Regions from separate parts of the Homo sapiens genome. Here region 1 is linked to region 2. A link means that fine-mapping ties the variant in region 2 to the expression of a gene that starts in the linked region. Tissue or cell type: whole blood. Region 2 holds a variant in brackets; the other region holds the start of a gene. All regions are shown on one strand. Distances are from middle to middle.

Region 1 (2,500 bases), 46 kb after region 2:
AATAAAAATAAAAATAATGTATCCAACTGAAGTGTCACCCTGTTTTCTACAACAAAGCTACAGTTTTCACCTCCAGTTTCATCTGGCAGTACTCCCTGGATGTACTCTGCGCTTCCACGTAAGAGGAACTGCACTTGCTCCCAGGGCTCCTCCCTCAGCTCAGCTTGGTCACCTGCAAGCCTCTATTGGTGCCATTCTTCACCCCAGGAATGCTGTTTCTTCTCAGAGCCCCCTCAGTTCAGGACAGCACTCCCTCCAGTAGCCTTCCTGACTCCCTTGGACCAGATGTGATTTCTTCCACATCTGAGTCTTCCCAGTTCTGGGAGGTTTTACTGAATCTTTTTAATAGTGCTTACTTCCTACCTGACCTAGACTGACTGTATATTCCCTTATGCAGAGACTTTGTGTGTCTCGTTTGCTTATGCACAACATGTGTTCCAAAGATATTTGACAGAATCGAAAGAGAAAACCGATTCCTGCCCGGAAACCTTTGGACAGAAGAATCTACATTCAGTAGCCTGACAACTCTGCCTTAGCAAACAAGTTGGTCAAACATGCCTAACTCCATGACAAAGAGGAACTAACTTGAGCCCTCCCTGGTGAACAATGGCCTGCTGCACTTTGCTTTAGGATTTTGTTTCTTAACTTTTCATTTTAGAATAATTTTAGATGTACAGTAAATTGCAAAGATAGTACTAAGAATTCCTGTGTACCTTTTACCCAAATTCCTCTAATGTCAACATTTGTGTACAATTTGTCGAAATTAAGAAATTAACATGGGTACGTGCTATTAACTAAACCACAGCCTTTATTATTTTTTCCACTAATGTCTTTTTCTGTTTCAGGATCCAAACCAGGATACTGGCGCTATAGTTTTATAAGGCTCAAAATTAACAGAAGAGAAAAAAAGTAAAGCAGGTGGAGAGGCAGAGAGAGAAATAGGGTCTCTGAAATCTATTTCTTATTTTTTTCTTATCAGACGAGGCCATTAAACTGGCATTCAGGGAAAAGGATTTGGGCAGTTTGTCCACAACCTGCAGAGTTTCCACGAATCTGCGCATCCCGCCCCTGCCCTGGGTCCTCCCCACTCCCGGTTCCCACCTGCCAGGTCTGACCCCGGGTACCCTCTCAAGGTCCGTGGCGGGGACCGGAGCCCGGACTCCAGCTCAGCGAACAGCACCCTCCTACCGCCCCGGCGCCCCACTCAGCTCGCTCACCTGGCAAGTAGCCTCCTCTCCGTGCGCGTGCGCCGCTGCCGCCGCGCGTCCTCCGGGCCACCACGTGACCGCGTGGGCGCAGTCCCAGACAGGAAACGCCGGTGAGGTCGCCCTGGGCCATGGAGGCAGCTCGCGCTACTTTTTCGCGACCTCACTGTGTTCCTGTGTGCAACCTGATGTTAGCTCTGTCCACCTTCAGCTCCAAAGCCAACCACGGGTAACCAATATGCAAACAATGACATGAGATTTAGAAAAACAACAAGACGGGGCCTGTGTCAATACAGGTAAAATTTGGTGGTTCAAACATTGAGGTTCAGACCGGCGCGGGGTTTCACACCTGTAATCCCAGCTTTTGGGAGGCCAAGGCGGGAGGATCGCTTGAGGCCAGGAATTCGAGACCAGCATGGCCAACATAGTGAGACCCCGCTCTACAAAAAATTTAAAAAGTAGGGCTGGGCGCGGTGGCTCACGCCTGTAATCCCAGCACTTTAGGTGGCCGAGGCGGGTGGATCACGAGGTCAGGAGATTGAGACCATCCTGGCTAACACAGTGAAAACCCTTCTCTACTAAAAATACAAGAAATTAGCCGGGCGTGGTGGCGGGTGCCTGTAGTCCCAGCTGCGCAGGAGGCTGAGGCAGAATGGCGTGAACCCGGGAGGCGGAGCTTGCAGTGAGCCAAGATCGTGCCACTGCACTCCAGCCTGGGCAACAGAACGAGTCTCCGTCTCAAAAAAAAAAAATAATTAAAAAGTAGCGGGTGTGGTGGTGCGTACCTGTAGTCCCAGCTACTCAGGAGGCCGGGAGGCCGTCAGGTGGGAGGATCCCGTGAGCCTGGGAGATCCAGGCTACAGTGACCACTGCACTCCAGCCTGGGCGACGGAGTGGAGACCCTGTCTCAAAAAAGAAACAAACCAAAACCAAAATATTAAGTCTCTAGGAATCCTGTAAGAGAAGGGTAGATCGGGCCAGGTGCGGTGGCTCACGCCTGTTAACCCAGCACTTTGGGAGGCCAAGGTGGGTGGATCACCTGAGGTCAGAAGTTTGAGACCAGCCTGGCCAACATGGTGAAACCCCATCTCCACTAAAATACAAAATTTAGCCGGTCGTCACACGTCCGGAGGCCGAGCCGTCGCGTACCTAGGATGCCGCGTGGAAGCCGAAGCCGCACCTCCCGCATGGCCCCTCCGGCCAGCCAGGCCCCCTCAGATGAGAGCTGCACCCAGGCCAGTACCAGTCGTTCAGCCACCAGCAGCGGCACCCCCATCTGTAGTTGGCTCTTCTGC
Region 2 (2,761 bases):
GGAGGTTGCAGTGAGCCGAGATCGCGCCGCTGCACTCCAGCCTGGGTGACAGAGACTCTGTCTCAAAAACCAAACAAACAAAAAAACCAAAAAACAAACAAAACAAAAAAATACACTAACACTAATGATAGCTGATGAACTAAAAAAATATATATATATATCAAAAAGATCTCATAATGTTTTAAGAAAGTTTACGAATTTGTGTTGGGCCACATTCAAAGCTGTTCTGGGCTGCATGCTCCCCACGGACCGTGGGTTGGACAAGCTTGGCTTAACCATAACCTGCAAAAAAAAGCAAAGACACTAACCAAATCTATGAGCATCTTAAGGACCTCTTGAGGACTGTCCTGGTCTTCCATCCTCTTAGAACTGTTTTCTGAAGGGAGCATACCCAACAGTCTCTGCCCGAAGGTCTTCTTACTCCTTGGTGATGGAAATCCTAAAATTGAACATGAGAATCCAGCTGAGACATTAAAATATCCTCACTGATATACTTCCAGCAAAAGAGGTAACTTGATCTCTAGGACAAGTGAGTCCAGGAGCACACAGTGGAATGTAGTGAGCAGAGCACAGCCTTCAGAGCCAGGAGCAATGCAGGTGAGAGGCAGCAAGAGTGCCGCCCTGCCATGCGGCACAGCCACCCCTCTGTGCCAGCTGACACACAGGCCACACAAGAACACAGTCCATGTCACTGGATCATCACAGTCTTCAAGAGCAGCCAGAAATGCAGATCTGTCATGACATCTTCCAATTCTAAATGTCAGCCACTAGTCTTATTGTTTGACTACACTAAGCCAACCTAACAAAACATGTCTGCAGGCCACAGGGGGCCTCTGAGCCATGCAAACTCTGCTTCCGAACAGCAAAGACCTGGACTTGAATCCTCATTCAGCCACTTACTAACTGTATGACCTCGGGTGACTTTTCTCAGCTTGATTTCCTCATCTCTAAAATGAGAATAGCATTACCTTCTTCTCAGGGAACTGTGCCATTAAATAATAAATCACACGGGCTGGAGAAGGGGAAGTGAGGAGTTACTGTTTCATGGGACAGGGTCTCTGTAAAGAAAGATGAAAATGTTCTGGAGCTGGATGGTGATGAAGGTTACATTACAATGTGAATATACTTAATACCACTTAAAAACAGTTCAAATGGTAAACTATATATATATATATATATATATATATATATATATATATATATATAATTTTTTTTTTTTTTTAGATGGAGTCTTGTTCTGTCACCCAGGCTGGAGTGCAGTGGCGCAATCTCGGCTCACTGCAAGCTCCGCCTCCCGGGTTCGCGCCATTCTCCTGCCTCAGCCTCCCGAGTAGCTGGGACTACAGGCGCCCGCCACCACGTCCGGCTAATTTTTTTGTATTTTTAGTAGAGATGGGGTTTCACTGTGTTAGCCAGGATGGTCTCGATCTCCTGACCTCAT[G/T]ATTCGCCCCCTCTTGGCCTCCCAAAATGCTGGGATTACAGGCGTGAGCCACCGCGCCCGGCCAACTTTAGATATATTTTACCACCATCACGACAACAACAAAAAATACCACAATTGTCAAAGGCCCTGCTCAGGTATTAGCATAATATTTAATATTTCACGTGCTGACATCATTGATGTCCTTCTTCATCCATTGAAGGAAAGTAATTTGCAGAAGTTATAAAATCTCAGATTGTACAAGGAAAATTTCAAGAATGTTTTTGGAATATTCTCCAAAAGTGGTTTAGTGGGAAACTGAGAGCAGATGAGGGGAGATCCCCTTCCCACCAATCCTGACAGACCACAGTGACGAGGGCGGCCCTGACCCCTTCCACGAGGAGCTGTGGCAAACAGAAGTCAGAGAAACTGACACTTTGATGAGTAGATGAATCTGTGTCCCTATTTTCAGTCTAAAAAAAGAAATAGCTTGGTGTGATGGCTCAAGCTGGTAGTCTGGAGGATTGCTTAAGCCCAGGAGTTTAAGATAAAAAAAAAAAAAAAAAAACCCAAAAGCAAAAATACAAAGAAAGAAAGAAGTATGCCTATAAACTACTTCCGGAAACTTGTCTAAACTGCCATATCAAAAAGAAAGTTGATATTAAGTGTTACTAAACATAAAATAATCTGTATCACCCTGTACCTCTTAAGATTACTGAAATATACTAATAAAATGAATTAAAGTCTTGTCACTGAGAAACTGAGAAAGAACTACTCAAACTTGTATAGATTTATAAAAGCTGTGCGAGATTAATCAATTTTTTTTTTTTTTTTTGAGATGGAGTCTCGCTTTTGTCGCCCAGGCTGGAGTGCAACAGCGCAATCTTGGCTCACCACAACCTCTGCCTCCCGGGTTCAAACATTTCTCCTGCCTCAGCCTCCCGAGTAGCTGGGATTACAGGCTTGTGCCACCACACCCAGCCAATTTTGTATTTTTAGTAGAGACAGGGTTTCTCCATGTTGGTCAGGCTGGTCTCAAATTCCCGACCTCAAGTGATCCACCCACCTCAGCCTCCCAAAGTCCTGAGATTACAGGCGTGCCACTGCACCCGGCCATCAGTTTTTGGTGGTTTTTTTTTTTTGAGACAGGGTCTTGCTCCATCACCCAGGCTGGACTGCAGTGGTGGGATCATGACTCACTGCAGCCTCAGCCTCCCAGGCTCAAGCGATCCTCCCACTTCAGCCTCCCTAGTAGCTGAGACCACAGGTATCTACCACCACACTTGGCTATTTTTTTTTTTTTAATAGAGACAGGGTCTCCCTATGTTGCCCAGCCTGGTCTCA

What was found. PIP is the estimated chance that this variant, and not a neighbour inherited with it, causes the effect.
Region 1: CCDC125 starts here. The variant in region 2 is fine-mapped to the expression of CCDC125 in whole blood (TOPMed, PIP above 0.99). The same link has a PIP of 0.9 or more in caudate, hypothalamus, nucleus accumbens and sun-exposed skin.

What each region holds. Positions count from the first base shown.
Region 1 is chr5:69,331,548-69,334,047 of GRCh38, forward strand. CCDC125 (coiled-coil domain containing 125) reads right to left here and starts at 1,254. Exons shown (of 12, transcript NM_176816.5): 1 at 1,102-1,254. It also overlaps the pseudogene CHCHD2P2.
Region 2 is chr5:69,285,029-69,287,789 of GRCh38, forward strand. It overlaps CCDC125 (coiled-coil domain containing 125), which reads right to left. Exons shown (of 12, transcript NM_176816.5): 11 at 309-439. Among named protein-coding and RNA genes, the nearest start is that of CCDC125, 46 kb to the right of the region's middle. The variant G/T (reference allele first, on the strand shown) is at 1,442.